Linked DNA regions of Homo sapiens: all the other regions are linked to region 3. The links come from fine-mapping of genetic effects on gene expression. A gene starts in region 3. Each other region holds a variant in brackets. All regions are shown on one strand. Distances are between the middles of the regions.

What was found. PIP is the estimated chance that this variant, and not a neighbour inherited with it, causes the effect.
Region 1: its variant is fine-mapped to the expression of EXOC3 in whole blood (TOPMed, PIP above 0.99).
Region 2: its variant is fine-mapped to the expression of EXOC3 in fibroblasts (GTEx, PIP above 0.99).
Region 4: its variant is fine-mapped to the expression of EXOC3 in whole blood (TOPMed, PIP 0.98).
Region 5: its variant is fine-mapped to the expression of EXOC3 in whole blood (INTERVAL, PIP 0.97).

Annotation. Positions count from the first base shown.
Region 1 is chr5:473,120-479,265 of GRCh38, forward strand. SLC9A3 (solute carrier family 9 member A3) reads right to left here. Exons shown (of 17, transcript NM_004174.4): 11 at 4,213-4,325; 12 at 3,424-3,553; 13 at 3,083-3,259; 14 at 2,901-2,973; 15 at 2,442-2,552; 16 at 1,764-2,013; 17 at 1-263. The coding sequence ends at 260. SLC9A3-AS1 (SLC9A3 antisense RNA 1) reads left to right here and starts at 117. Exons shown (of 7, transcript NR_125375.1): 1 at 117-280; 2 at 2,018-2,200; 3 at 3,113-3,444; 4 at 4,125-4,217; 5 at 4,687-4,730. RefSeq lists enhancers at 1-81, 2,009-2,649, 5,045-5,214 and a silencer at 5-824. The variant G/A (reference allele first, on the strand shown) is at 3,631.
Region 2 is chr5:157,334-163,479 of GRCh38, forward strand. It overlaps PLEKHG4B (pleckstrin homology and RhoGEF domain containing G4B), which reads left to right. Exons shown (of 20, transcript NM_052909.5): 12 at 4,450-4,611; 13 at 5,389-6,146. Among named protein-coding and RNA genes, the nearest start is that of LRRC14B, 31 kb to the right of the region's middle. RefSeq lists enhancers at 2,338-2,838, 2,839-3,339. The variant G/A (reference allele first, on the strand shown) is at 2,261.
Region 3 is chr5:440,931-447,076 of GRCh38, forward strand. It overlaps EXOC3 (exocyst complex component 3), which reads left to right and starts at 2,246. Exons shown (of 13, transcript NM_007277.5): 1 at 2,246-2,360; 2 at 5,220-5,419. The coding sequence starts at 5,276. EXOC3-AS1 (EXOC3 antisense RNA 1) reads right to left here and starts at 2,230. Exons shown (of 1, transcript NR_126522.1): 1 at 905-2,230. It overlaps LOC124900930 (a long non-coding RNA gene), which reads left to right and starts at 5,891. Exons shown (of 2, transcript XR_007058671.1): 1 at 5,891-6,146. RefSeq lists enhancers at 1-37, 1,691-1,740, 1,761-1,870, 2,641-2,770, 2,821-2,910 and 2 more and a silencer at 1,951-2,340.
Region 4 is chr5:292,214-298,359 of GRCh38, forward strand. All of the region lies in intron 2 of PDCD6 (programmed cell death 6), which reads left to right. The region is part of intron 2 of PDCD6-AHRR (PDCD6-AHRR readthrough (NMD candidate)); the gene reads left to right. Among named protein-coding and RNA genes, the nearest start is that of PDCD6-AHRR, 24 kb to the left of the region's middle. RefSeq lists a silencer at 2,794-2,964 and enhancers at 4,266-4,794, 4,795-5,323. The variant TTAAAA/T (reference allele first, on the strand shown) is at 2,995.
Region 5 is chr5:352,919-359,064 of GRCh38, forward strand. AHRR (aryl hydrocarbon receptor repressor) reads left to right here. Exons shown (of 11, transcript NM_001377236.1): 3 at 812-993. It overlaps PDCD6-AHRR (PDCD6-AHRR readthrough (NMD candidate)), which reads left to right. Exons shown (of 13, transcript NR_165163.2): 5 at 812-993. Among named protein-coding and RNA genes, the nearest start is that of AHRR, 34 kb to the left of the region's middle. The variant C/T (reference allele first, on the strand shown) is at 3,578.

The DNA of each region.
Region 1 (6,146 bases), 32 kb after region 3:
CGCACTCGGCAGCCCTCGGCGCTCCGGCCCCGCCCCCGGCGCAGGCCCCGCCCCCGGCTCGCCCTCGGGCGGCTCTGCGGGCGCAGGCGCGGCACTCTCGGAGTTCTGCGCAGGCGCTGGCGTGGGCGAGGCGGGGCTCGGGGCTCGCGGTCGCTGTAGCCGCGCGGGGATCTGGGGTTTCTCTGGGACAGCGGCGGCGGCGGTGGGCGGACCGTGGCGCGGGGACGAGCGGCCGGTTAGCGGCGTGTCGGAGCCGGTGTCACCTGCGGGAGAGGAAGGCGTGAGCGGCGCGCGGAGCCCGGGCGCTGGGGCGGGAGGGGCGTCCCCGGGGGCCTCAGCTGTCCCCGAGCCCGGCGGCTCTCGCCTCCCCTCCCGCGGCGCACCCCAGGCTCGGCGTCCGCTGGGGCCTCCTCCCAGGACCCGGGTTCGCGGGGCAGAGGCGGAAGCAGCAACAGCGAAGCCCCAGCCCGGCCCCGCCACGTCCCCCCGCCGGGGGTCCCGGGACAGCGGCCTCCTCGGCGCAGGAAGGTCCCGCCCCAGGCCCTGCAGCGCGGGAGGTCAAGGTCCCCAAGGGGACCTGCTTCCTCCATCTCAAACCGCCCTGGCGTCCCCCGGGTGCCTCCCAGGCCCCCAGAGGGAGCTCAGAAAGCCCAGACCCCACGGCCCGCCCCTCTCCCTGCTCTGAGCTGGAGGCAGAGTCCGGGTCTGCGGGGCCGGCCCTCCCTGTATCCCTGTGAGAGGGTCGGGGACCCGGGGCGTCTGTCTGGCTTCCCCCAGCCCTGCTCTCAGCTCCCTGGGAGCGCAGGATTTGGACTCGCGGACTAGCTTTCGGAGCCACCTAAAGGAAATCTCAGGCGGCCCTAGTGCCCTCAGCTCCGTGGGAGCAGCAGAGACGCCAGAGTATCTCTGTCCGGGCTCCTGAGGGAGGTGCGGCCAGCAGGGCGCTAGAGGAGGAAGAGGGGCTGCTGGAGAGAGAGAGCGCGCCAGGTTCAGGTCCAGGGAGGAGAGAGAGCGAGCGCGCGAGGCGGAGACCTGGAGGGAGAGGAGCTGCGGAGAGGGGTTAGGCGGGGAGGGAGAGAGAGAACCAGGTTCCGGTCCAGGGAGGAGAGAGACAGCGCGCGCGAGGCGGAGACCTGGAGGAGAGGAGCTGCGGAGAGGGGTTAGGCGGGGAGAGAGAGAGAGCGAGCCAGGTTCAGGTCCAGGGAGGAGAGAGACAGCGCGCGCGAGGCGGAGACCTGGAGGGAGAGGAGCTGCGGAGAGGGGTTAGGCGGGGAGGGAGAGAGAGAACCAGGTTCAGGTCCAGGGAGGAGAGAGACAGCGCGCGCGAGGCGGAGACCTGGAGGAGAGGAGCTGCGGAGAGGGGTTAGGCGGGGAGAGAGAGAGAGCGAGCCAGGTTCAGGTCCAGGGAGGAGAGAGACAGCGCGCGCGAGGCGGAGACCTGGAGGGAGAGGAGCTGCGGAGAGGGGTTAGGCGGGGAGGGAGAGAGCCAGGTTCAGGTCCAGGGAGGAGAGAGACAGCGCGCGCGAGGCGGAGACCTGGAGGGAGAGGAGCTGCGGAGAGGGGTTAGGCGGGGAGAGAGAGAGCGAGCCAGGTTCAGGTCCAGGGAGGAGAGAGACAGCGCGCGCGAGGCGGAGACCTGGAGGGAGAGGAGCTGCGGAGAGGGGTTAGGCGGGGAGGGAGAGAGACAGCGCGCGCGAGGCGGAGACCTGGAGGGAGAGGAGCTGCGGAGAGGGGTTAGGCGGCGGGAGGCCCGGGAGCGTTACATGTGTGTGGACTCGGGGAGGGCGGCGGGGGGCCGCTCCTCGGGGCCGTCTGCCTGCAGGAAGGAGTCCACGGACTTGCTGCTGAGGCGGAAGGGCATCAGGCGGCAGAAGGTGCCGGGAGAGTAGGGAATCTGCGTGCGGGCCCTCTGCGAGGGGACCACCGTCTCCCCGGGAGACAGCCAGGGCGGCAGCCTGGCCAGGAGGCTGCGGTCCAGGGCCTCGTCCGGAGAAAACACAGGGTTGTCAATTCCTAGGAGAGAGGGCAGCGGCTAGTCAGCCTTCGGAGAGCCCCACGGCGGCAGGGGAGACCTCGCCGGGGCCGTCACCTGCTGGGTGCCTTGGAAAGTTAGGGTCACCGGGAAGGTTAGGGTCACGTGCCTTTCAGGTTGCGGGCCCTTCCCCCACATCCATGACCCCACACGCCACAGGCAGCACAGGTAACGTCTCGCTTCCCTCAAGACATACCCCACCTGCTCCCTGCCCGGCCCACGTCTCCCCGGACAGCAGCCTCCGAGTTGGTTGAGGGGGCACTCAGTGGGTGCCAAGCAGGGCCCTTGAGAACCCACAGGAGACCCCACCCCCCCAGGTCCCAGTGCCCCTGGTCCAATGACCGAGCTCCCTCCTGGGGCGGCAGGAGCCACCCCTCCCTTAGCCACGACGCCTGTGCCCCGTCCCCACCTGCAGGGGAGTCGGACGCTGTGTCCTTGGTGACACTAGCCAGGAACTCGATCCCCCCACTCATCTCCTCATCATAGTTGGGGGGCTCCTCGGTGTCTGAAAGTTCCAAGTCTGGGGAAGACAGGTTGGGGTGAGGACTGGGGTCACTGGGGGGCTGTCCTCACAGCCCAGTCAGCAGTGTCCATCAGCTCTGTGCACAGAGGTGCAGGCAGTCGGGACCCACAGAGAGGAGGGCTAAACCGCAGGGCTGGAGGAGGGACCCCACTTAGAGGGCAGTGTCCCTGGAACCCCATCCTGGGTGGGTCTGCAGCTGGGGCCCTGACCATGCCTCCCCTGCCTGGGTGGCTGGAGGGTCCCCAGAGGGGAAGGTCCTGAGAGGGGAGGTTCCCGAGCCGGGAGGGCTGGGGCTGGGAGGTGGTGGCTCCCAGTCCCAGCGTTCCTGCAGGGCCCCCAGCGCACCTTTCTCCTTGATGGTGAAATTCTGCGCAGGGCTCTCCATGGGCAGCTTCCCATTGGGGATGCTGCTGTTTCTCTGCGGAGCAAACGTGAAGCTGCTCACACCCCGACACAGCCACACCCAGCCCTGACTGCCCCCGCTCCAGGCCCCAGCCCCGCCAAGCCTCCTGGTGACCCAGCCTTACCCGCTTCTGGGCACGCTCCCGCTTGTACAGCTTGGCCGCCTTCTTGTTCTGGTTGAGCCCCAGCTTGGTCGACTTGAAGGACTCCAGGCGCTTCCGCATGGTCCTGTGGAAGATTTCCCGGTCCTGTTTCTCGTCCTCCGTGGGCGTGAGCTCGTGTCGGCTGTACAGATGCTTGTACTGCGGGATCAGGCACGGAGGTCACAGCTGTGCCCACCGCCGGACATTCTCGCCCTCCTGCCGCAGGAGCTGAGCACGGATCCCCCGTGGTCCCAGGAGGGGACGAGGAAGCCGCCCCACGGGGTCCCTGCGGGGTCCTCCAGCCCCCAGCCCGCAGTGCCCACCTCCTGCCGCGGCTTGTACAGGTACTGCTGTAGCGTGTGGTGCGTGACCATGTCCTCCGCGTCCCGGATGCTCCGCCGTCGCTGCTCCAGAGACTGCATGTCCAGGCAGACAGCGCTGACATTTTCTCTCCTGCGTGGGGACCAGCGCTGAGCCATACAGGCTCCCTCAGGGTGGGGTCTCTTGCGCGCCCCTCGCCTTCCCACGGC[G/A]GGCATCTGGCCCTGGCTGCCTCCTGCGTGCCCCTCGCCTTCCCATGGTGGGCACCCGGCTGGGGCACGGGGACATCTGCCATCTGGCCAGCCCCTTCTCCCCTCGGGGCTTAGGCTGACTCCCCACGAGGCCTTCCTGGCCTCCTGTCTGAAGTGGGTCCCTTTCCTTACTGGTCCCTCTCCAAAGCCCTGGCTGTAAGACTCGGGGACCCCAGCATCTGCACATCTGGCAGAGTGGACCTCCTATGAGAACTGGCTGTGAGCTGTGGAGCCCAGGGCCGGAGGAGCAGTAAGGGTGGCATGGGGACCAGGACAGGCTGCTGCGGGCCAGGGGCAAACACGTCAGGCCTGGCCCCCAGTCCGCTGCTGCCCCTCCCTTTCACCTTCCATCCAGCACTAAGGGAGTCTGGCCACGGCCTAATATAGGAGGGCTTGTGGAAGGAGACACCCACCCCCTCTTTCTGCACCTCTCCCCTCTTCCATGCCACCCCCAGGCCAGGAGCCACCACAGCCCTGTCTGTGACTCTCAGCTCCCGAGGCTGGGCTCTTCCCCAGGGAAGCTGCATGACCATGGCCACATACAGGAGGTAGGAGACAGAGGCCTCCACGGTGGACGATCGTGGCGTGAAGTCCACGTTGACCACGTTGTCGGTGCTGGGGGAGCGGATGAAGGCCAGGGACCCGCGGCGCTCTCCCTGTGGTCAGGAAGCAGCCCGGTCAGTGGCCTGAGCAGCCAAGCCCTAGCTGCTGCCATTGTGTGCCCTGGGGGGAAGCGCCCAGAGCTCGGGGCCCGGGGAAAGCCTTGAGACCTGAGCCCCGGGTTCACGCCTCACAGCTGCAGAGGGAGGGGTGGAAATGCCAAAACCAGGAGATCAGATTTTGAGCCCCTGTCCGTCTGAGGCCACAGCCAGGCTGCTGCCTGAACTGGGCAGAGGTCATGCTTGTGGGAGGACACAGTGGTCTGAGTGTGAAGGGGTAAAGCTGCCTGGGACTTGGGATGTGTCTGGGGAAAGTGTTGATACTGCAGAATCATTGAAGTGGTCTCTGTCCCTGCAGGAGACCCTAAAACTCCATTGGCCTCATGTCCAGAACTGAATCAGGTAGAGAACGGAGCAGAGCCCGATGGGGCACAGAAGCCACACAGCTGAGTGCCAGAGGATGGAAGTGGGGCCGCCTATGTGTCCTCAGACCCCACCCGCCTGATGGCAGGGCCTGGAGAGCATGAGGTTGTGCAGGAGCACAGGGCAGAGTGGGCTTATGGCTGGAGTCAGGGTCCCCAGGGCCGGCAGGGGCACGGGTGTGGAGGGAACGTCAGCTCACTGCACTCAGACCTCGCCAGGTGGGCACCCGTGCCGCCTTCAGTGTGCAGGATGCTCCCAGGGAAGCCCCCGGGGTCAGGTGGGTGCCGCTGTTCCCACTGAAGATGCGGCCCCCAGTTCACTGCCCACTCGGGGGGGATTTGAGGGTCATTGGTTCTGAGGGCCCTCCGCCTGCTCTTTTGCTTCTAAATCCAGCATCTTCTGTATGACCTTTGTCCCGCTCCTGCCACCCCACGAAGACAGACGTGAGGGTCAGGGGAGCCACGGTGCTAACTGCCACTCTGGGCGGGCACAGGCGAGGGCTGTGCAGCACCCGGGCACGTGGGGTCTTCGGAGGGGCTGCTCCCCACACCACTTCCCCTGCCCCTGCCGAGCCCTGCCGTGGGGTGGGGGGGCGCAGGGAGAGAAAGCAGCCGCCCTGGGTGAGAGCCAGGAGGGACACTGGGCAGGCAGATGCCACCCCAGGTGTGGGGACCCCCGCTACTGAGTGGCCGGGAGGAGCCCACAGGCTCCCCACATGCAGCTGAGCCCAGGGTTGTGGTCGTGGGTCGTGGGTCAAGGATGGTGGCTGGTGTGGTTGGGGGAGAGGCTCAAGGCCCGCCTGCCAACCTTGTCACCTATGTGGGGGTGAGGGGAGCCCGCCAGAGGCCAGAGCCCCCACTGTCCCTTCCCACCCTCCAGCCAGGCTCCAGGCCTCCTAGGGCCAGAGTATCTGAGCTTTCTCTCGCTTGCCGGGCCTGTGGTTTGGGGGTTTGTGTGGAGCCTGGTCCAGGAGCCCTCCTTCCTGATCTGCACTGGCTGGCCCTCCTGACAGCCCCAGGCCCCCGTGCCCTCTGCCAGGAGGTGCCTTGCCACTTGGCATGGCCCCAGTCACGGGTGGCACATCTGGGGTGAATGCACGTCAGTGGAGGCAGAATCATTCTGTCTGAATGAATGGAGTTTCCAGGCCCCCACTGGCCCTCTGTGTGAGGGTCTGCAGGGTTTGGCAGGACAGGTCTTTCTCTCCGGCGAGAGCACCCACCCTGACCGGCTGCTGGATGAGGGCACCAAAGCTCGCTAGGGAGGGCTCTGTCCTTAGGGAGGAGCTGCGGAATCCCTGCAGCTGTGCCCCCAGGCCCTGCCTTGCACACTTCCTGCAGCCAGGGCGCCCCTGGGGAGGTCAGGGCAGGCCGGGGAGGCTGAGGCCCACCTGCCATA
Region 2 (6,146 bases), 280 kb before region 3:
GACCTCAAGAAGTGGCTCTGGAGGCCAGGGAGAGGCTCAAGGTTTTAAAGAAAAGAGGACAAATCGGGAGGGGGTGATGACGGAAGTGGCTTTTCATGAATTCTCTGGGTCACAGAAATGGCATTGGTGGGGGTTGGCCACACGCTGCTGGACTACAGGGTGTGAGTTGTGCACAGTGTGTGGCGTGGCTGGGGTTATTGATGGCCCTTGGTGGACACACTGCAGAATCTGGGGTCCATATAGCAGTGGCTCTGAAATGATTGCTTAGCTCGGGGGGCACCAGCGAAATGATTGCTTAGCTCAGGGGTGCAGATGATGCTGCTGCCTCATTTTGATGCCCCTCTGGGCCTGACAGTTTAAGGGGTGCACACTCAGATAAAAAGTTTCTTTCTTTTCTCACATATAAACTCTTCAAAACTTGCACATTTTTATATAAATCCTTATTATTTTATCAACAACTATTGCTGCGATGAATGTGCGGGTGAAAGAGCCAGCAGCATGGAGAGGCAGCAGTGGGGTGGAGGCATCCCCAGCCCTCCTGTCTGCTGGCAAAGCTCCCCCGGCCTTCAGGTCCATGCGCGTGCCCTCACGGGGGCCTCCAGACAAAGACGTGCAGCAGGGACGCGAGGCACTGTGCATGCTCCTGGCCTCCCCACGACTGACCCCAGCTCCCAAATATTGGCCAGGGGCCCAGCTGGTCCAATCCCTGGGGCAGGAACAGGAACCCCACACCAGGCAAGTGGAGTCCAGGCCAAGCTGCAGCCACCAGCCAGTCCGGGCTGTCTCCAGTCTGTGCCCTCTGTCCTGGGGGTCTCCTCCATCTCCCCTCCTCCCTCTGCTCTATCCTGGCTCCATCTCCCCTCCTCCCCCTGCCCATCCTGGGGGTCTCCCCCATCTTCCCCTCCTCCCCCTGCCCATCCTGGGGGTCTCCTCCATCTCCTCTCCTCCCTCTGCCCATCCTGGGGGTCTCCTCCATCTCCTCTCCTCCCTCTGCCCATCCTGGGGGTCTCCTCCATCTCCTGTCCTCCCTCTGCCCATCCTGGGGGTCTCCTCCATCTCCTCTCCTCTCTCTGCCCATCCTGGGGGTCTCCTCCTTCTCCTCTCCTCCCTCTGCCCGTCCTGGGAGTCTCCCCCATCTCTCCTCCCACTGCCTATTCTGGGGGTCTCCCCTATCTCCCCTCCTCCCTCTGCCCATCCCAGGGGGTCTCCCCCATCTCCCCCTCCTCCCTCTGCCCGTCCTGGGAGTCTCCTTCATCTTCCCCTCCTCGTTCTACTCCGTCCTTGGGGGGGTCTCCCCCATCTCCCCTCCTCCCTCTGCCCATCCTGGGGGATCTCCCCCATCTCCCCTTCCTCCCTCTGCCTGTCCTGGGGGGTCTCCTTCGTCTTCCCTTCCTCGTTCTACTCCTTCCTGGGGTGTCTCCCCCATCTCCCCTCCTCCCTCTGCTCTTCCTGGGGTCTCCTCCATCTCCCTCCCCACTCTGCCCCATCCTGTGGTCTCCTATTTCCTGTATCCAAGTCTTCCTCTTTTTTCATTTACTTTGGCGTTTTATGCAGAATAACTTCCAGGACTTCCCAGAGAAAGGGATCTTGGGGTGAGCATTTTTGAGGCCGTGGTATCTAAAAGCATCTCTACTCCACCTTCATGGCCAGCAGTCACTTTAGTTTCCCTTCGCCAGCTGGAAGGCCCTGCGCCTGTGCTTAGCTTCCATCCCACTCCCAGCCTTCTGCCTGTGCCCTGCTTCTCGGTGGAAGCCACAGACTTTCCTGTCGTCCTCGGGGCTCTGGAATCTGAGGGTTGCCCAGGTGCGCTGAGGGCAGGTGTGCCCGAGGGTCACCCAGGTGCACTGAGAGCAGGTGTGCCTGAGGGTGGCCCAGGTGTGCCTGAGGGTCGCCCAGGTGCACTGAGGGCAGGTGTGCCTGAGGGTCGCCCAGGTGCACTGAGGGCAGGTGTGCCTGAGGGTCGCCCAGGTGCACCGAGGGCAGGTGTGCTCTTTGTGTCTGCACTGCGCCCCTCTGTTCTGGGAATTCTGTGACATCCTTCGTGGCGCTCGCATTTCCCACAGCTCCACACTTCCATCTGGTTCTGGAGTTTTCTGTCCTGTTGCCTTAATTTTCCCCACCCCTGGCTGTGTGCTGTCCTTGTAAGGTAGATTTTTCTCAGCTTTACCCTCTAACTCTATTATTGAGTTTTTTGTTTCTGCTCTTGCTTTTTAACTCCATGGGCTTATTTTCTGAACAGTCCCCTCTCCATACTAATCAT[G/A]ATGAGTCTGCACAGTCTGTGGCTTCTGTGGGTTTGTTCTGGCGCCAGAGGCTTTCCTGGCGACCCCTGGCTAGGAAGCCTGTGGCCCACGCATCTTTAGCATTTTCTCCCTGGCGGTCTGATTCTTTTCCTCTAATCCCGGCCTGAAAGGAGAGCCTGGCCGTAGCTCAGTGTTCACCTGCCAGGGAACAGACCCTGGGCCCTGTGGAGCAGGGTGCCCAGCTCCTTCCCTCCGACACTCCCTCACCCTGTCCTGTGGAGTCTCGGGACTTGGCCTCTGCTCTCCTCAGGCCCTGCCACTCCCGCTTCCTTCCCGGCCTCCAGGTTTGTGCCCTGGCTGCTCTCTGCCCACCGTGCTGAGTGTTACGCCTTGGAAGATGCTTGCAGGGCTTTAGTGGTGTCTCAAGAGGACACGTCTCACTCTGCAGTCTTCACCCAGAAACTCCACGTTGTGACCGGACAGGCGATCCTGCTATGTATAGGTGCACGTCTGTCTCTATATATTTAACCTAAAAAGTGCATGCACACTGTGGGAAAATTAGAAACAAATAGATTTTTACACACGGGATGCCGCATGTGGCGGCCTCGGCACCCTGTGTGTGGGCATGCGCTGCAAGCTCAGTCCCCGAGCCATGTTCACACGGCTCCCACACTGAAGGCCCTGGGCTCCTCCCCTCTCTGCTGTTAGAAACTCCCCATGTTGAACATCTCTGTGTCTCTGCTTCCTTCACAGCCTGTGGGTGTTGACTCTGGATACATTCCTAGGCTCGGATGGCTGCGGTCAGACCATTTGTTTTTGGAGGTTTCCACGCATAAGCCGTGGCACTCCAGCCGCACCTGCCTCCCGCCGGCTGCCCCGTGGGGAAATGGAGCCCCTAAACAGTGTGCCCTCAGATTTTCTATGCGACAGCTGGACATTCTCTTCACACGTTTATTATTTTTATTTCTGTAGTGAATTACTTGTTCATGCTTTAGACAGTTTTTCTAGGGTTGATCATCACTTCTGTCTATGTTATATGGATCCTTCATGTTCTGCTTGTTTTCCTAGTTTGTCATTTGCCCTCTAGCTTTGCTTATCTTTTAAACAGCCCTTTCTACCTTAAGTTATAGAATTATTAGTGTATTTCATCATAGAACCTTTATGACTTGAATTTTTGTATTTAAATCTTGAAACCAATGACAGCCGATTTTTCCACAAAGTTGGAGGCCAGGCTCCAGCTCTGCGCCACCCCCACTCTGCTCTGCCGAAGCCGCACCTGCCCCTTGCCTGGCAGTTGCAAGACTCTGCCCGTGCTCCTAAGAATCAAGATGCTGTGATTTTCTTCTTGACTCTGGCTCTGTTTACAGACAGCGTATGTGCTGGTCTGTCTCTCCTCTGCTGCATGTCTGGGGTCATTCGGTACCTTCTGATGGTCATGGATCCAGGCAGCTGTTCTCTTCTTCACAACAGGCCTCTCATCTCTGGGCATCTGACCCCTAGTCGCCCCTGGTGTTGCTGTTTAACGACAACATGAAGGGCTTACCTCTGACATTTCCACTGAATCCAGCAGTAAATGCCTCCAAAATAAGAACCTTGGTCTTGTCACCAGGGCGCGTAGCCACAGGCGCTCCGTCCAGCAGGGCTCAGCCAGGGGCTCCCCCATCTTTCCCAGGCAGCCTCAAGGGGCCAAGCAGCCACTGGCCTGAAGAATATTTCTGGAATATGCTTACCATATTAACCAGTTTCAAAATGGAAAGTCCTGGATCTATTGTTCAATGATTTTAATGTCCTTTTCCAAACAATGAAAATAGTTTGGAGCTTGAGCCTCAGAGGCCCGTGCCACCTCTCATCAGTCGTGTTCATTCACGGGTGGTTACGCAGCCAGGCTGTCAGCCCTGTGCAGCGTGTACTCAGGACATGACCAAGACGCATCCCTCCCTCGGTCCTGCTAAATCCTAGAGTGTGACTTCTTCGCATGTTTAAATATAAAATGTTCTTCCCCTGTGTAGATCAAATCATAGTTTGGAAAAGAACTAGAGAAATGCCTCGGTCCTTTGGTGCCTGCTCTCGAGAATGAGAGGCAGCAGCAGGCAGCACTGTGGGCCGTCCGAGCCTTGGTGCCAGTGGCTACACGCAGACCCAGCCCACACCTGGAGACATGAACGTGGAAGCACCGGGCTTGTACTGATGCTTTGTTCCTTGGGTACAGCAATCCTGCCAGAAAGGACTACAGCTGGCGAAGGAGAACCCGCAACGTACAGAGGAAATGGTCCAGGATTTCAGAAGGGGCCTGAGCGCCGTGGTCAGCCAGGCTGAGTGCAGGGAGGGAGAGCTGGCCAGGTGGACCCGCTCGTCCGAGTTGTGCGAGACGGTAAGAGACCCAGTGGGCGTGCGTCCCAGGGATCCCGGCTCCTTAGGCTGTGGACATCTAGCAAGTGCCTCCCCTCACAAGCTGGAGTGGGCCAGGCTGTGGGACAGAGGCCGGGCACCTGCGATGGAGCCCCCCTGGCCACTGCGCCCACGGCTCTCTGGAGAAGGCTCTGAGCCGACCTGTGAAGCATTTGATATTGTACCAAACAGACCAGCCAAACGAACACACACATTTCTCTGTGTGTTTACTGGCTCAGTTAGAAAATTCCACTGATTGCCCAAAACCCTAAACAAGTGCTACAGCAGACTGCTCGCCTGCGAGCTCCCACGCGCCCCAGACCGCACGCCTGCGAGCTCCCCCGCGCCGGGGACTGCCTGCCATTAGGAGCCCGGGCCAGAGGCCACGGAGCTCACCTGTCAGGACAGCATTTGAGGGGTCATGGGGTGGCCAGAGCAGGGTAGAGCCGTCTGCCCCGTCACGCCTCTCTCAGCTCACAGGATGTGGCATAACTGATCTACACAATGTCTTCACGTGGTCCTAGGACATCCCCCACGGTGCCCTCTGGCATGGCGAACAGACCCCATGGGGTCAGACACAGCCCACCTGCCCTTCCGCTGAACCCGGCCACAGCCCCCACTGGGTGGCGGGACTGCCTCTCGCTCTGCTTTCTGGCCCCCTGGTCCCTGAATAGGCTGACCTGGGGAACAGCAGGGCCTGAGCTGGCTCCAGGGCAGCCCCTCCTCCACTGCACTGAGCAGAGCCCTCCTTGTCCCACAGGTGAGCAGCTGGATGGGGCCCCTGGACCCGGAGGCTTGTCCCTCCTCACCCGTGGCTGAGTGTTTGAGGAGCTGTCACCAGGAGGCTACCTCGGTGGCTGCAGAGGCCTTCCCCGGGGCAGGTGTGGCAGTGCTGAAGCCTCATGCCCTGGGGAAACCGTGGGCATCACAGCAAGACCTGTGGCTGCAGTACCCCCAGACCCGGCTCCGTCTGGAAGAGGCCCTTTCTGAGGCTGCCCCAGACCCCAGCTTACCGCCCCTTGCCCAGAGCCCCCCAAAGCATGAGCGTGCCCAGGAGGCCATGAGGAGGCACCAGAAGCCACCCTCATTCCCCAGCACGGACAGTGGGGGTGGTGCCTGGGAACCTGCGCAACCACTGTCCGGCCTCCCTGGACGAGCGCTTCTGTGTGGACAGGACGGGGAGACCCTGCGCCCAGGGCTGTGTGCTCTGTGGGACCCACTGTCCCTCCTCAGGGGCCTTCCAGGGGCAGGGGCCACCACGGCCCACCTGGAGGACAGCTCTGCCTGTTCCTCTGAGCCCACCCAGACCCTGGCCAGCCGCCCCAGGAAACATCCCCAGAAGAAAATGATAAAGAAAACGCAAAGTTTCGAGATACCTCAGCCCGACAGTGGCCCCAGGGACTCCTGCCAGCCAGACCATACTAGTGTCTTCAGCAAGGGCCTGGAGGTAACCAGCACTGTAGCCACAGAGAAGAAGCTCCCGCTGTGGCAGCATGCCAGGAGCCCCCCGGTCACTCA
Region 3 (6,146 bases):
ATCTGTCCTGCTTCAGTGTAAAACCCAACCCCTGGGCCGCAGAACTCGCACCCTACCCACCCACCTGCCTGCTGTAGGACGGCAAGCATCTCTGCTTCTGATTCACGTCCTCTCCCCTTCCCACATTTGTCCCTGGTCACGTCCTTGCCTGTTCGTGAATCCACTTGTGCAATCGACATGATGCTTGCACTCAGCAGTGCTCCTGGGTGTTCGCAGAACATGGTCTGCCAAAAACAGAAGTCAAGAAACTTTTTTTTTTGAGACAGATTCTCCCTCTGTCACCCAGGCTGGAGTGTAGTGGTGCCATCTCAGTTCACTGCAACCTCCTCCTCCCGGGTTGAAGCCATTCTCCTGCCTCAGCCTCCCAGGGAGCTGAGATTACAGGCATGCACCACCATGCCTGGCTAATTTTTGTGGGGTTTTTTTTGGTAGAGATGGGGTTCCTACCAAAAAGACCATGTTGCCCAGGCTGGTCTCAAACTCCTGGGCTCAAGGGGTCTGCCCATCTCAGCCTCCCAAAGTGCTGGGATTACAGTTAGGAGCCACTGCGCCCAGCCAATAAATACCTTTTTTTTTTTTTTTTTTTTTTTTTTTTTTTTGAGACGGAGCCTCGCTCTGTTGCCCAGGCTGGAGTACAGTGGCGCGATCTTGGCTCACTGCAAGCTCCGCCTCCCGGGTTCACGCCATTCTCCTGCCTCAGCCTCCCGAGTAGCTGGGACTCCAGGGGCCCACCACCACACCTGCCTAGTTTTTTTGTATTTTTTTTAGTAGAGACGGGGTTTCACCATGTTAGCCAGGATGGTCTCGATCTCCTGACCTCATGATCTACCTGCCTCGCCTCCCAAAGTGCTGGGATTACAGGCGTGAGCCACGGCGCCCCGCCAAGAAAGACTTCTAATCAATGTTTTGTTAAGAAGTTACTAGACAGTCCTCCATCCAAATTCACTACCAGACACTGATATAATAGTATGAGTCTTTAGTTCATAATACTCAATGTTACTATATTTTTAAGAGTCCTAAAAGCTTTGGCAATTTTGGCAATTTTTTCTTCATTAGTTTCAAAATTTCTTTACAGTCATAATTTCTAACACAATTTTAACTTTTTTACTTTTTTTCATTGCTCAACTTGTTGCTAGATTTTCAGAAATTACAAGGAAAAACTGAAATAATAGAGCCGGGGTCAGTGTCAACATCAGCAGGGCACGGGGCAGGGCTCCCTGTCGGAGTGGCAGTGGGGGCTCCCGCAAGCTCCATCTCCTTCCTGTGTGCCCCTGCCCCATGCTGCTGCCACTTCCCTGGTCTCTGCTGGCTTCCCTGCCACCTTCCAGACCCTTCCTTTCGTGTGGCTAATTTTCAGGAGGGGCAGGGGCACAACCTAGCAGCTCCAACCTATGAAAGACTTTGTCAGTTGGTGTGTCAAAGCCAGCATCTTTTATCAAACAGACAAACCCTGAACGCTCGTGGTTTAGCACGTGCTTCTTCCTCCAGGCGAAGCCAAGTGCTGGCCATGGGCCTCTCCTCCAGGAAGCGACTCAGGACCGGCCCTCTGCAGCGCGGCCCAGTGACCCACATTCATTCTCCAAGACCTGCGCTGCTGGGCCTCTGAGGGGCCCCGGAAACATCCGGTGGCCACCCATCCCACTGGCATTGTTCCCACGAGGGTGCCAATGACTGCGCTCCTGGAGGGGCTGAGTTCGTCTTTGGGTCCAGGAGGTACCCAAAGCCGCTTGTCTGCTGGTGGCAGGTATGACAGACGTTTGATTCCCAACCTTCTCCGCTTTGGTTTCTTCGTTTACTGAATGCCCGGCGCCCACCTCAGTCCGCGGGAAACGAGGGACGCCCCTGCCACACTGCAGTGCGGACGACGAGGCCAACATAAAGACAGCAGGCATCAGCAGAGGATGGAGACAGCGGCTCTGGGGCTGTCTTCTCTCCGCAGGTTGGGAAGGGAAAGGAGAGAAAATGCACGCAGTCACGCTCGGCGGAGGCGTCCAGGACTGCGCCCGCCCTGGGGAAGGGCGCACGCGGTGGTCGCCAGGGGCAGCGAGAGGGCCTGAGTTGGGGGGGCTGGGACGGACAAGAAGCCCCCCACCTCGGCGGTTTCCCTGTCCTGCTGGGGAGCGGCCATGGGGCAGGTCCCCGAGCTGAAGTCGCTCGGCCGGGAGACGAGTACCCGCCCCGCGGGAGGGCCCGGACCCGTGCTTCCGGCGCCGTTGCCGGAAGCGGAAGTGCCCGCGCGCTGTCCACTTCCGGCCGGGACCCCGGAGGCGGAGGCAGCGAAGGCGGAGGGGGCGGCGGGGGCGGCGGCGGCGGCGGCGGCGGCGGCGGCGGCGGCGGCGGCGGCGGCGTAGCCGTAGAGGGTGAGTCGGTGGCAGGTCCTGACGGCCGGCGGGTCCTTGGGAGGTGGTCGCCGTCTTTCATCCTTGCTCTCCCTGTCTCTGGCTTCCGCGGGGGCGCGTAGGGGGAGGCCGGACCGGGACCTGGAGGGCGGGGAGGCCGTTCCGGACCCCGTGGAGTATCCCGCTCGTGCGAGTGTCCTCGGCGCAGGTGTCCTCCCCGGCACATGTGTCCCCCCCAGGCGTAGGTGTCCCCTTGGCACATGTGTCCCCACAGGCACAAGGTCCTTCCTGGTGCAGGTGTCCCCTTAACAGTGTCTTCCCCCACGCCCCAGGCGCTGGTGTCCTTCCTGGCACAGGTGTCCCCCCTCGGAGCAGGTGTCCCTCCTTGGGGCAGATGTCCCTCCAGGCACAAGTGTCCTTCCTGGCGCAGGTGTCCCCTCGGCGCAGGAGTTCTCCAAGGTGCAAGTGTCCCCTCAAGCACAGGTGTCCCTCCCAGGCACAAGTGTACTTCCTGGTGCAGGTGTCCTCTTGACGGTGTCCCCCCCCAGGCGCAGTTGTCCTTCCTGGCACAGGTGTCCCCCCTCGGACCAGGTGTCCCTCGTCGGAGCAGGTGTCCTTCTGGGCACAAGCGTCCTTCCTGGCCTTTAGGAAGCTTTCAAGGTGCAGGTGTCCTCCAAGGTGCAGGTGTCCTCCAGCGGAGTGTCCCCTCCGTGAGGTGCCTCCCAGCACAGGTGTTCCCCTCGGCGCAGGCGTCCCCCCGGTAAAGGGTCCCTCCTGGCAGAGGTGTCTGCCCGGCAGAGGTGTCTCCCTGGCGCAGGTGTCTCCGTGGGTGCTGATGTTCCCCGCAGTAGGGTGTCCCCCCGCTCGGCGGAGAGGCTCACAGCGGAGCCAGCGCCAGGGGAAGGCAGTCAGAAAGGCCCTGGTAGGGGCTGGACCTGGGTCTCTGTTTATGGTCTCTGAGTTCCTCTTTGGCTTCTGTGACCCAAAATCTTTAGTCTTCAGGCTGGGATGGAAGCCTCTGCGGTGCGTTTTTTAACTCCAGATTTTCCCCTTTTCCACATGAGTAGCTTTATTCTGACTCCAAGGCGAGCCCTGCTTCACAGCTCTCCACTCACATTGCCTTGGCTTCCACCCACAGCGTGACAGACTTCACTCCAGCCTTAAGATGGGCGCAGCCACCTCACCGCGTGCCCCAGCAGAGCGGCTGGGGGTCCACTTCTTGGGTTATTATCCAGCCCTATAATCAAAATCATACAGGCTTTAATGTCAATGGAAATGCTGATGATAATGTCCAAACAAAATAAGAAAACAAAAGTGTGCACCTACAAAGTCATATAAGCAGTGGAATCTTAGCTTTAAAAGAAACTCAAAGGGAAAAAACTGGAAGGAAACAAGCCCTGTTGGAGGGAGTTGCCCCTGAGTGTCGGGATTTAAGGGGAGTTGTCCCTGGGTGGCGGGATTTAAGGGGAGTTGCCCCTGAGTGGTGGGATATAGCGGGGGTTACCCCTGAGTGGTGGGATTTACGGGAAGTTGTCCCTGGATTGTGAGATTTAAGGGAAGTTGCCCCTGGGTAGCAAGATTTAAGAGGAGTTGCCCATAGATGATGGGATTTAAGGGGAGTTGCCTCTGGCATCTTTGTATTTTTGTCCTGTCCAGATTTTCTACGTTGGTATGCCAAATTTCATAATCAGAAAATAAAGAGAAAGGAAAGGTTGCAATGTAGGTCCAGATGAAAAAGGAGAAGAGAGGTGTCTGAAAGCATGTGGGCATGGAGAATGAAAAATTCCAGGAGAAGGTGAATCTTTTTAATATTCATGAAGATGAAAATCAGACAGCTGAAGTCAAGGGGAACAGGTGTATCGGATTCCCTCATTGACTGATGCTCACCAAGCAGCTGTGTTAGCTCCCCGAGGAGGACGATGGTGGAGGGAGCATGGAAGGCAGGCTTGCCTGGCATCTGAGCACCTGTGGTCTGCACGGGGCCTGCATAAAGGAGGGAAGCATGATGTTTTCTAGGACAGTTAAAAAAGGGGGAAATGGGGTTTTGGATACCCAAGACAATAATGACTTTTTCTTTTTTTTTCTTTTTTTTTTTTTTGAGACGGAGTCTCGCTCTGTCGCCCAGGCTGGAGTGCAGTGGCGCGATCTCGGCTGACTGCAAGCTCCGCCTCCGGGGTTCACGCCAGTCTCCTGCCTCAGCCTCCCGAGTAGCTGGGACTACAGGCACCCACCAACATGCCCAGCTAATTTTTTTGTGTGTATTTTTAGTAGATACAGGGTTTCACCATGTTAGCCAGGATGGTCTCGATCTCCTGACCTCGTGATCCACCCGCCTCGGCCTGCCAAAGTGCTGGGATTACAGGCGTGAGCCACCGGGCCTGGCTGACTATTGTCACTTTTATAGGGTGGGAATTGTGGGGCTTGTGCTGGGCCTCCAGCTGTGGTACCTGGTCGGGGGAGTTGTCCACGCTGTATTTGTCTTCACTGAGGGTCCTGGTGCAGCTGCCCACAGGCCTGGCCAAGGTGCTGGGGGAAAGCTCCCGAAATGAGAAACCAGCCCTGTCTTGGGGAGAGATGTGCCTTTGAGGCTGACATCTACATGCTGGGTGGTCTGGGACCCACATCTAGAATCTTCGCAATGTCCATGTCTCTCATGCCTGTGAAACGCCCCTGCTCTCCCCTTAAAGGTATAACTTCTGCATGTTTGTGTTACGAAGGTTTGTTTATCTTATCAAGGAGTTCCTCATCCTAGTTCAGCTTTCTTTGAGGTTTCCTGGATTAATGATCTCAGAGGCTCTGCTTGTAGCTCCACTGTGATCACCTGATAGTTTGGGGGAGGTTTTGTACCTAACATTTCTACCGTCCTAACAACTCCTGCAGTGCACAGAGAACACCCCTAGCATGAACAGTGTGAGGATTCCACCAGCTTTTTCACCATGAAGGAGACAGACCGGGAGGCCGTTGCGACAGCAGTGCAAAGGGTTGCTGGGATGCTCCAGCGCCCGGACCAGCTGGACAAGGTGGAGCAGTATCGCAGGAGAGAAGCGCGGAAGAAGGCCTCCGTGGAGGCCAGATTGAAGGTGAGGCCACCTGCCCCACTCCCAGGATCTGTCTTGGGCTTCAGGTTCTTGCTTGACATCACCATGATGATTTTGCTAAACTAGCCTTTATGGTAATGTGCAAGGAGGCAGAGCTGGACTTTCTTGAGCAGTTACTTTCAGCAGTGTATTACCACTCAGTAGCTTTGCTTAGAAGACAGTGGGAATGGTGAAAACACCAAAGGAACAAGCTTTTAAACACCCTGAGGCCGGGTGCGGTGACTCATGCCTGTAATCCCAGCACCTCGGGGAGGCCGAGGCAGGCGGATCACCTGAGGTCAGGAGTTCAAGACCAGCCTGGTCAACATGGTGAAACCCTGTCTCTATGAAAATACAAAAATTAGCCAGGCATGATGGTTGACGCCTGTAATCCCAGCTACTTGGGAGGCTGAGGCAAGAGAATCGCTTGAACCCAGGAGGCAGAGGTTGCGGTGAGCCGAGATGGTGCCATTGCATTCCAGCCTGGGCAACAGAGTGAGACTCTGTCTCAAAAAGAAAAAAAAAACACAGAAACAAAAACAACACCCTGAAAGTGTCTATTAAGTTTTTAAACAATACTGGAGGAAGGAGAAGTAGTCTTATTTAAAGCTCTTCTACAGAGCACCACTAGAGGGCATTTTGTTCAGATTGTTTTAACTCACATTTGACAGAGAGCGGATCTGAAGCTCAGGTGCCGATTCTGTCCTGTGGGTCAGCCGTCCTGGGGCCA
Region 4 (6,146 bases), 150 kb before region 3:
AGTTTCTGTTAAGTTGTTTGAATTTTTGCACTTTTCTTTTATTATTCCTATTGTTATGTTTTTGAGACAGAGTCTCACTCTGTTGCCCAGGCTGGAATGCAGTGGTGTGATCTCAGCTCACTGCAACCTCCACCTTCTGGGTTCAAGTGATTCTCCTGCCTCAGCCTCCCAAGTAGCTGGGATTACAGGCGCCCGCCACCACCCCTGGCTAATTTTTGTATTTTTACTAGAGATGGGGTTTCACCATGTTGTCCAGACTGGTCTGAAACTCCTGACCTCAGGTGATTCTCCCACCTCAGCCTCCCAAAGTGCTGGGATTACAGGCATGAGCCACCATGCCTGGCCTGCCTTTTTCTTTTTCAAAAGGACTCTTTATACCTGTTCATTCCGGTGACTATCTGTATGGCAAAGATGGGTTTGAATCCACCAGGATAAATGTGCAGGATCTCCTCTCTGGTGGGAGAAGAGACAGAGAGGGATAGAAGGGTATGGAGAACAGAGCCGAGAGGAGGCCGAGTCAGGCAGGGGTGGCAGGCTGCTGTGAGGACTTGGCTCCGTCTCTGAGTCGGGTGGGGATTAGCAGAGGATTTAAACAGAGGAACCATGGGATCTCCCTTATGCATTTCTGCCATGGTTGGCTCAGCTGAACGCACCTCTTGAACAAGACTTGGCCTTGGACACCTAGAGGCCCTTGGTTGAGGGTTTACCTCCTGGCGTGGCCACTGACACATCCACGTTTGGCTCCCACACAGCTGGGCGGCCCCAAGACCTGCTCTGCCTGGGCTTCTCATTGGTGGCATTTCTCAAGTTTGTCCCCTCTCAAGTCTGCACCATCCGGAAAACCAAACACCTCTCTCTCCTACATGGAAACCCCCATCAGCACCTCCCCCTGACTCACAGGGCATCCCGTCAACATCACAGTCCCGACTTTCCCATATGGACAAGCCCACAGGACCCCCTGATGGACCAGGACAGCGCCAGCACTAAGACATGCCCTGAAACTCACAGGAAGACCTGATCAAGAAGACGGGAACAGCACAGGGCACTGGGAGCTGCAAACACCCACGATACTGTCAGAGATGGAGAAAGGTATGACAGGAAGAGCAGATCAAGAAGACGGGAACAGCACGAGGCACTGGGAGCTGCAAACGCCTGCGATAATGTCAGAGATGGAGAAAGGTATGACAGGAAGAGCAGATCAAGAAGACGGGAACAGCACGAGGCACTGGGAGCTGCAAACGCCCGCGATACTGTCAGAGATGGAGAAAGGTATGACAGGAAGAGCAGATCAAGAAGACGGGAACAGCACGAGGCACTGGGAGCTGCAAACGCCCGCGATACTGTCAGAGACGGAGAAAGGTATGACAGGAAGAGCAGATCAAGAAGACGGGAACAGCACGAGGCACTGGGAGCTGCAAACGCCCGCGATACTGTCAGAGACGGAGAAAGGTATGACAGGAAGAGCAGATCAAGAAGACGGGAACAGCACGAGGCACTGGGAGCTGCAAACGCCCGCGATACTGTCAGAGACGGAGAAAGGTATGACAGGAAGAGCAGATCAAGAAGACGGGAACAGCACGAGGCACTGGGAGCTGCAAACGCCCGCGATACTGTCAGAGACGGAGAAAGGTATGACAGGAAGAGCAGATCAAGAAGACGGGAACAGCACGAGGCACTGGGAGCTGCAAACGCCCGCGATACTGTCAGAGACGGAGAAAGGTATGACAGGAAGAGCAGATCAAGAAGACGGGAACAGCACGAGGCACTGGGAGCTGCAAACGCCCGCGATACTGTCAGAGACGGAGAAAGGTATGGCCATGGCTGACACAAAATGTTACTCAACATTTATCACAGGCCTAAATGGAGAACATAACGCTATAAAACCCTTAGATAAAAACACAGGAAAATTTGTATGGCCTGGGGTTGGGCGAAAAGTTCTTAGACATGACACCAAAAGCATGATTCATAAAAGATTGACAAATTAAATTGTCATAAATTTAAAATTATAATGCTATAAAGCAATATAAAAATCTAAAGAGAATGAAACACAAACCATGGTCTAGAAATAAACATTTGTGAATCACACGTCTCACAACGTACTGGCACGCAGGATATGTGAAGAACCATCAAAACTTAACCATAAGAAAGTAAAAGCCCCAGTATTAAAGAGAGGGCAGATATTGGAACAGAGGCCTCATCAAAGAAGGTATAAGGAGGGCATATTGCCCGAGAAAGAGGCTCAACGTCGTAGAGATGCTGGAGAAATGCCAGTCAACAGTACCTCTGCAAATCTATTAAAATGGCTAAAAACAGACAAAAACCACAGGCCGACCCAGGTTCTAGTGATGATGCAGAGGAACTGGGACCCTCATAAGCTGCAGTGGGAATGGGAGGGGTCCCGCCATGCTGGAAAGTGGTCCGGGAGTTTCTTACGAAGTTAAGCACATCCTTACCCTGTCATCCAGCAACCCCGCTCCTGAAACGTCCCCCAAGAGAAAACTTAAACGTGCATGCACAAACCTGCACACAAGTGTTTAGGCCTCATTCCTCATTGCCAATAACTGGAAGAAAACAAAATGTCCATCGGCAGGAGGAGGCGGGAACCAACGCGGATGCTTCCACACAGGGGGCACCAACCAGCAGTGGAAGGATGCACCCAAATGCCCCAGGTCTCCCAGGCCACATGCCCAGTGAAGGAAGCTAGTTTCGGTGCGCACAGGCCGAGGGATGCCGCCACGTGACATCTTGGAGAAGACAGTGCTACCGTGTTGGGGAGCAGGGCAGTGGTTTCGAGGGGCTACGGGTGGAGGGGCGAATGGAGGAGCTCTCTGGGGCGGTGGCGTGAGCACCTGCACCTCACTGTGGGCTGCTGCGGCTGAGGGGCTGTACAGCAAACACTAGCTTCAGTACACGCAGACTGAAGGAGGAAGGCTGCCACAAGTCAAAGACAGAGGGTGTCACCTCCATGAAACAAAAACATATTAAAAAAAACTC[TTAAAA/T]TAAAAAAACCACAAAAAGTATTTCATAAGCGTATTGGACTTTGAGTTGACATCATCTACCTGGGAGCATGGAACTGAAACCACAGGCTTGGCAATCCCAGAGGGAGAGAGTGGAGGGTTTAGACCTCCATTGAAGGGCTCAGTACCTGGCTATAGGAAATAACATTTAAAAAGCGGCAGGGTGGAAATAATTTCTGCTGATGAGGTTGCATTTCTCCAGATAACCGGCAGAGTAAATTAAAGCAATATAGTAAAACAATGCACATATTGATGGAATCTCAGGATCACAAGGTTGTGGTGAAGGAAATTTGAAGATGTCCAGGAAAGAAAGACAAATGAGATGAATCTTGCAGCTGCCCTTCAAGGGGGCATGGGCCGGGTGGCCATGATTCTCCGTGATGTTGCAGGAATTCTGGCTGGGTCCTCAGGAGCCTTTTTTTTCTTGTCCACATTCACCTTCGGTGGGTGGTCCCTGGTGGTCATGACCGCACTCAGGGCCCGGGGCCTGCTGAGGCTGCTCTCCCTGTTCCCGGAATGCAGGGGTTTGTTCCAGATCCCGCTGCTCTCCACACAGAAAGCCAATCACTAAGACGATAGTTACTGCCAATGAAGAAGGCATGCATCAGAAGCTACAGGCCAGGAGATGGGAGGTCAGCTTCAAATCCATCTTCCTGACTGACTATATAGCAGGGAAGAAGTGTGACTGTGTGTAAGGAAAACAGGAATTAGGGAGAGTGAGGAAGAGGAGTTGGTCAGGAGGAGGCAGGTGGCTGGTCAGGCACTCATGATGGGTGAGGGGTTTGGCGTCTTACTGTCCAGATGGCGTGATCTGGTGAGTCTCTCTTCCTTCACACTACCTGGGAGGCCTGATGGTCAGTTTCCTAAGAAAGGAACTCAAATAAGACAAATGTCACTTTCTCAAGTTTTAAGACCAAAAGGATCCATTTCTATGTTATTCAGAGAAACCATGAACATCAATTCTCTGGGACAATCAGGCCAGTTCAACACCAGATCTGATCGGCCACGACACCTGCTGCTCGACCCTCAGATAAGGCCCAGAATCCAGTGTCCTCTCCCCCACCCCAGCCTGGCCCCACACCCACACCTCCCCACTTCACCCTGGGCCTCTGCTCTCTCGCCACAGAGGGGTCAGGGAGCTGTTCACGCCCCACGTGCACCTGGGCACGTGGCATATTTCAGATGCACCTGGTGTCACTGTTTGCACAGACCTAAGTGGGAAGAGATCCAAATGCTCGTTCACTGCAGGTGGATGAGGACATCCCAGCAAGTCCCTCAGTGGAGTCAGCCAGTGCAAGGCGAGTGAGGGACCCCCAGAGACATGAATGGGTCTCAGATAGTGTGTGAGTGGATGAAGCAGCAAAAACACACGCTGCTAATTAATTGATTTATGTCGAGCTCAAAGTAGTCCACATCAAAAAGACTGTTTGGGGCTGCAGGAATTCAGTGGATAATTGCAGGCAAGGCAAGGGAAGGTGGACCAGAAAGGTGAGGAGGACGCTCCCTTCGAGGGTGGAGAGAGTAAGACTGGCATTGCACATGGGTGGGGGGGCCCGTCGAGGCCCCTCTTTGCTTCTGAGAGTCTGTTTTCATCGACAGTCTTCTACTAAATGTACATAGCAGCTTTTCAGGGCAAGGGTCACCGGGATTCGTCTTTATGCCTCCCCAGCCCGGGAGCCACCACCTCCACCAGACCCATCCACACAGTTGAATCTCATCTCAAGTTCTCTGGTGCCCGACCCCCCACGCACACCGTGCTGGTCTGGGCATCTCACCTGCATCCGCACAAGTGCCTCAGGAGGGTGGAGTGTCTGGTGCTCGGCGCTGGAGGCTCAGCCCACACTGTGCCGGGCAGTCGCAGGCCTCCCAGATGAATGAAGCATGAATGAATCCCGATCCTGTTATCACAGCTTCTCCCCACGCATCCCAGGCAGAATGTTGTGCAAAAACCACACCAGGATTCGTACATGCCAGAGGACTGAACTTCTGCGTGTTGCAGATAATTCATCTTCCTGAATCACTGTGGATCTACCATGTGGTTAACCACGGAATAAACATGGGGGAGAGCGTAAGCGCTGTCCTAGCAGAAACTTATGCTTCTTCCGTTACCCTTAAAAAGTAAAGGGTACGGATTTCATAATTGTGTTTCTCTTGTAAATGAGACTCTCATGGAAAAATCAGCCATGTAGGCGATAGATTTGTATACCTTTAGATTAAAATGTCACTTCGATTATTTCAAGTGTAAAAGTGTTTCAGCTTTTTTGAGGTATAATTGCTACACAAAGAGCTGCACACATTTCATGTGTGCACTTTGGTGAGACTTGACCTGAGCAAACACCCATGAAACCATCACCAAATCAAAGCAATCGAGGAATTCCACACTTGCTGGGGGCTTCCTTGCACCTGTGCCCGTGGTGAGAACACAGCACGAGATCTTCCCTCTCAGCCAATCGCAAACGGCCCACAAGAAAATGACACCAGGCCTCCTGGTGAACACACACCCTGTGATTTAATTGTTGATCTTTTTAACCTGGGGCTCACATTCTTCATTCAGAATATGGCAAAGACTTTAGAAGTCATCCAAAGTATCAGTAATTTGAAGTCCTTTAATACAAAAAGTATAGAATATGACCTTTTGTCACATAGCAATAGGGAAATGAAAAAAGAAAATCGACTTATGTTCTTTAATGGCTAGGAAAATATTCTTAAAAAGAGATCTCAAGCACAGGTGAATCTAACAAATGACAAATTTATTTCTTTACATAGATAAATATAAGGTTAGATCCACGTAAATAAATGAAGCCATTAAGGGTAGAGTCCCACAGACCACAGCGTCCAGCTCTGCTATCGATATCAGGGAGTAATTTCCAGGCACACAGAACTGACCCAGCATCCAGCTCTGCTCATGATTTCAGGGGTAATTCCCAGGCACGGGTCGAGCTGGAGAAGCTGGGGGCCCCCATAGCCCCACTGTCCTTCCTGCCTCATGGGGTCTCTGAGGGGTGCCTGGAACATTTCCTCTTGGGCTTTGAAGATCATTTCACTTAAACACATTTTCCAGGTGCCATGGACCTGAGCCCAGAAACTTCACGGTACCAGGACCACCCGAGACAGTGGCTCCCCAGGAGT
Region 5 (6,146 bases), 88 kb before region 3:
CTCTGAGGTTAAATGGGTCAGCTGTAGGGGATGGTCACTCTGAGGTGAGAGGGTCACGCCAAGCTCCTGTCATTTTAAGGTAGGTTGGGTGAGAGGGGTCAGCTCCCTCCCTCTCTGGGCTCTGTGGTGTGGAAGCCCCACAGGTGGCCCCTTTTTGTGGGTAGAGCAGGCCTGCTCTGGCTTATTAGGAGAATTGGGTGATGGCCCTCACTGCCCCTTTGTGGGGCCCCAGAGTGGCAGGCACCTGGTCTCATTTGCCCTGGGTACTCTCCCCTCAGCCCCAGCATGTACAGGAGAAACCAAGCTCGGAGCGGCCTTGGGCACGGCCCGGCTGATGCCAGGAGGACCTTTTCATGTTTCCTGGAATGTGTTAGGTTTTGTTTAGACACCGAGGAGTCCCCTAAGGATGCTGAATGAATGTGGCATTTTCTATGCTCACTCCTGCCCCGCCAGCCTGGGGCCAGGCGTCCTCCTCCCTCCTCAGGGATCCGTAGTGGAGAGGTGGAGAAATGTGCCTGTCCCGCAGCTGGGGGCCGTGCCCTGTCTCCGTGCTCTGAGCTGCGGTTCTCCGGCTGGTTTGCTTCTTCTCTCTACATCCCCTCCAGATACTGAGCTGTGCTTGGCTGTTGTGCGCTGTGGTTTTTAGTGTCTATGTCTTGAGGCATGGGTGAGCTTTAGTCCTCTTCCCGTCTTTTGTCCTGGCAGCAGCGTAGATGCTCCTAGTAAGGTCACTGCAGAGGACGGTTTCCGCCCCAGGGGGCCTGTGGCTTCTGGTGGAGAAGCCCACCTGACCCAGACCATCTCCCCACAGGAGGCCCGCCGTGGGGGCAGAGAAGTCCAACCCCTCCAAGCGACACCGGGACCGCCTCAACGCCGAGTTGGACCACCTGGCCAGCCTGCTGCCGTTCCCGCCTGACATCATCTCCAAGCTGGACAAGCTTTCTGTCCTGCGCCTCAGTGTCAGTTACCTCCGGGTGAAGAGCTTCTTCCAAGGTAGGACTCTCACCTGCTCCCACCTGTTCACTTGAGTCAGGCTGTGTCTCCCCTGAGTCCATCTGGGGCCTTGTGGCCAGGTGAAGTGTGTCTGGTGGGTTGCACCATGTGCACTCCCTTCTTCCCCCACGCTGCCCCCAGAACCTGGAGACTTGGCCCCTGGATGGGAGCTGGCTGGGCTGTGGATTTTCCCTGGGGCCAGGTCTGGCCCTAGCTGTCCTCGACACTCTCAGGGTGGGGGCCTCACCTCAGTTTGCTGGGATGGGCCAGTTTGCGCCTGGGGTCCTGGGTTTGCTGAAGCTGCGCAGCTGCTGAGGGAGGGGCTGGGGCTGTTCCTCCCCGTGCTGGGCCTCACTGGGGCTTCCCCACAGACCCCGGCTCCAGGGAATGAGGGATCGGCTTTGTGGATGAGCAGGGCTGGGCATGGTCAGGAGGCTGAGGCAGCTGACTAGGTGGGACCCGGGGGCTGCCCTGGGGTGCCGGGCGCCTCCCCCTGCCCACGCCAGGCCGTGCCCGGACACAGCTGCTGGGGCTGCCCTCTCGTGGGGAGGGGCTTCTGGGGCTCCTGCATCTCAGGTGGGGCCTCCCCAGGCCTGTGCCCTGTCTGTCCTTGGAAGCATGGCGTTTCCTTAGATTTCAGGTTATTGCTGCCCTGGGAGCTGGGATCGCTCCAGAGAACTCGCAGGTGTAGACCGTGGGGCCTTTGCTGTTGCGGGAGGGTGGGAGAGAAGCTGCTTTCAGCTTCTGTGTTGGGTGACGTGCCTGCACGTGGTTTGATTGCAGCACTTTTAGAATTAAAAACCCCGTGACCAGCAGCATGTGGCAGTTGTGCCCGGTGCCTGCACTCCTGAGTTTGAGTCAGGGTGGGGGCCTCCCCTGGGCGGGGGGCGTCTGTCTCAGGGTGCAAGAGGCTGTCAGTGCCTGGGCCCCTGCAGACCTCTGCGCACCCTCAGACACCCCCAGGGAAGGACGTGGCCCATGGGCTGCGGGAAGGAAAGTCACGGTGATGCCCAGCATCACGCGCCGTGTCCTGCCAGTGCCGGCCCCACACTGAGGGTCTTCCCCGGGTCCCGGCTGGCCGCAGCCTCCATGGAAATCAAATCCCACAAAATGTTAACAGAGCTTATCTGAGTGGTGAGGTCACAGCAAGTTTTAGTTTTACATTCCAGGTTTTCTAATTTTATGTTGAAAACTATTAATTTTATATTTATCTCTGTTCCCAGCCTGGGCCTCCTGGTGCCCAGGGCTGCTGGGTGGTGTTGGACTCAGTTTACCTGAGAGACCTGGGGTTTGCCGTATGTGCAGGATGGCAGCTTTTCCAGGAGGGTTAAGATGTGGTGCAGTTGGTGTGGTCTGGTGTGGTGGAGTGGGCACCACCCTGCATGCACCTGGGCATGGGCACCAGCATGGAATTGAGGGCAGGCTCCCAGGTTTGCCTTCTGGGACACGCCTTTCATGGATGGCGCAGTGCGGCTCAGCAGCGCCAATGGCAGAGGGCAGTCCCCGTGTCTGGACAGCGCAGGAAGGGCTGGGGCAGCCGGCAGGGAGGCTTTGTCCCGAGCTGAAGACCTGTCACATCGGCTTCCTCCCACCGACACCGCACAGCCTCACCCTCTCGCTGGGAGGTTGGAGGAGAGGCCAGGTCATTTCCTCTCCGCACAGGTCCCACTGTGTCCAGCCAGGCCAGGGCTTGACGGCCTCAGAAAGTCTTCGATTCTGGTGTTTCCAGCAAGTTTGGACACCTGGCTCTTCTTAAACTGCCAGCGAGTGAGCTTCCCATCCTGCTGCCTGCCCCAAGCCGGGGCAATGGCACTGGATGGCCATCCTGTGCAGGGGCACCCTGCGTGCCTCCTGCTGCCCTGCTGGGAGGTGCCCACCTCTGCCGCAGCTGCAGTGACTCTCAGGGGCCACCGGCTTACGAGAGTGCTGCAGCTTTCAGGAATAAACTTCCTGATTTTTCTACCAAGGATTGTGAATTTTGTGATCCCCTTCAGGCTGTACATTTTAGAGGAAATTCTAAAAACTTTTCTGAAGTCATTTCCACGTATAATTAGAAACAAGTCAAGCTATAAAAGTTAGATCTTAAACTATGCCTCTTGACTTAGAGATGGGTAAGCTAATTTCATTACGGCTGCCATAAAAAGTTGCCTTTGGGAAGGACATGAACCAGGGTGATGATGGCCTGAGCATTTGCTTGTGATGTTTAATGTTAATGTGACTGTTAAGGTCGGGATTTTCCACTCTTGGTGATTTTACTATTCACACCAGGGGAAGTCAGGCACAAAATAAGAGGGAAGGAGGTGGTGAGGAGGAGACAGTCTGCTGCTGCCTTGAGAGAGCTCTCTGCCCTCCTGCTGCGGGGCATGGAGGGGAGCTGGGCCCCTTCTAGGCTGAACCCTGGTCACAGCCTGGGACGTGGGACCCTAACACTGACCAGGAAGGGTCCAGAAGCCCCGGCTCTGTTGCTGAAGCCCAGTTGTGGGTCAGGCCACCCTCCCAGAACTCCTTGGGGGTGCCTGTGTTTGCCAGGACCCCTGCAGTCAGCGACTGAGGAAGAGCGCCCGCGAGTGGAGGCCCTCAGTCA[C/T]GGAGTCCACCCGGGCAGTCAGCGACTGAGGAAGAGCGCCCGGGAGTGGAGGCCCTCAGTCACGGAGTCCACCCGGGCAGTCAGCGACTGAGGAAGAGCGCCCGCGAGTGGAGGCCCTCAGACACGGAGTCCACCCGGGCAGTCAGCGACTGAGGAAGAGCGCCCGCGAGTGGAGGCCCTCAGTCACGGAGTCCACCCGGGCAGTCAGCGACTGAGGAAGAGCGCCCGGGAGTGGAGGCCCTCAGTCACGGAGTCCACCCGGGCAGTCAGCGACTGAGGAAGAGCGCCCGGGAGTGGAGGCCCTCAGTCACGGAGTCCACCCGGGCAGTCAGCGACTGAGGAAGAGCGCCCGGGAGTGGAGGCCCTCAGTCACGGAGTCCACCCGGGCAGTCAGCGACTGAGGAAGAGCGCCCGCGAGTGGAGGCCCTCAGTCACGGAGTCCACCCGGGCAGTCAGCGACTGAGGAAGAGCGCCCGGGAGTGGAGGCCCTCAGTCACGGAGTCCACCCGGGCAGTCAGCGACTGAGGAAGAGCGCCCGCGAGTGGAGGCCCTCAGTCACGGAGTCCACCCGGGCAGTCAGCGACTGAGGAAGAGCGCCCGGGAGTGGAGGCCCTCAGTCACGGAGTCCACCCGGGCAGTCAGCGACTGAGGAAGAGCGCCCGCGAGTGGAGGCCCTCAGTCACGGAGTCCACCCGGGCAGTCAGCGACTGAGGAAGAGCGCCCGGGAGTGGAGGCCCTCAGTCACGGAGTCCACCCGGGCAGTCAGCGACTGAGGAAGAGCGCCCGCGAGTGGAGGCCCTCAGTCACGGAGTCCACCCGGGCAGTCAGCGACTGAGGAAGAGCGCCCGCGAGTGGAGGCCCTCAGTCACGGAGTCCACCCGGGCAGTCAGCGACTGAGGAAGAGCGCCCGCGAGTGGAGGCCCTCAGTCACGGAGTCCACCCGGGCAGTCAGCGACTGAGGAAGAGCGCCCGGGAGTGGAGGCCCTCAGTCACGGAGTCCACCCGGGCAGTCAGCGACTGGGGAAGAGCGCCCGCGAGTGGAGGCCCTCAGACACGGAGTCCACCCGGGCAGTCAGCGACTGGGGAAGAGCGCCCGGGAGTGGAGGCCCTCAGTCACGGAGTCCACCCGGGCAGTCAGCGACTGAGGAAGAGCGCCCGCGAGTGGAGGCCCTCAGTCACGGAGTCCACCCGGGCAGTCAGCGACTGGGGAAGAGCGCCCGCGAGTGGAGGCCCTCAGTCACGGAGTCCACCCGGGCAGTCAGCGACTGAGGAAGAGCGCCCGCGAGTGGAGGCCGTCAGTCACGGAGTCCACCCGGGCAGTCAGCGACTGAGGAAGAGCGCCCGCGAGTGGAGGCCCTCAGTCACGGAGTCCACCCGGGCAGTCAGCGACTGAGGAAGAGCGCCCGGGAGTGGAGGCCCTCAGTCACGGAGTCCACCCGGGCAGTCAGCGACTGGGGAAGAGCGCCCGCGAGTGGAGGCCCTCAGACACGGAGTCCACCCGGGCAGTCAGCGACTGGGGAAGAGCGCCCGGGAGTGGAGGCCCTCAGTCACGGAGTCCACCCGGGCAGTCAGCGACTGAGGAAGAGCGCCCGCGAGTGGAGGCCCTCAGTCACGGAGTCCACCCGGGCAGTCAGCGACTGGGGAAGAGCGCCCGCGAGTGGAGGCCCTCAGTCACGGAGTCCACCCGGGCAGTCAGCGACTGAGGAAGAGCGCCCGCGAGTGGAGGCCGTCAGTCACGGAGTCCACCCGGGCAGTCAGCGACTGAGGAAGAGCGCCCGCGAGTGGAGGCCCTCAGTCACGGAGTCCACCCGGGCAGTCAGCGACTGAGGAAGAGCGCCCGGGAGTGGAGGCCCTCAGTCACGGAGTCCACCCGGGCAGTCAGCGACTGGGGAAGAGCGCCCGCGAGTGGAGGCCCTCAGACACGGAGTCCACCCGGGCAGTCAGCGACTGGGGAAGAGCGCCCGGGAGTGGAGGCCCTCAGTCACGGAGTCCACCCGGGCAGTCAGCGACTGAGGAAGAGCGCCCGCGAGTGGAGGCCCTCAGTCACGGAGTCCACCCGGGCAGTCAGCGACTGAGGAAGAGCGCCCGGGAGTGGAGGCCGTCAGTCACGGAGTCCACCCGGGCAGTCAGCGACTGAGGAAGAGCGCCCGCAAGTGGAGGCCCTCAGTCACGGAGTCCACCCGGGCAGTCAGCGACTGAGGAAGAGCGCCCGCGAGTGGAGGCCCTCAGTCACGGAGTCCACCCGGGCAGTCAGCGACTGAGGAAGAGCGCCCGCGAGTGGAGGCCCTCAGTCACGGAGTCCACCCGGGCAGTCAGCGACTGGGGAAGAGCGCCCGGGAGTGGAGGCCCTCAGTCACGGAGTCCACCCGGGCAGTCAGCGACTGGGGAAGAGCGCCCGGGAGTGGAGGCCCTCAGTCACGGAGTCCACCCGGGCAGTCAGCGACTGGGGAAGAGCGCCCGCGAGTGGAGGCCCTCAGTCACGGAGTCCACCCGGGCAGTCAGCGACTGAGGAAGAGCGCCCGCGAGTGGAGGCCGTCAGTCACGGAGTCCACCCGGGCAGTCAGCGACT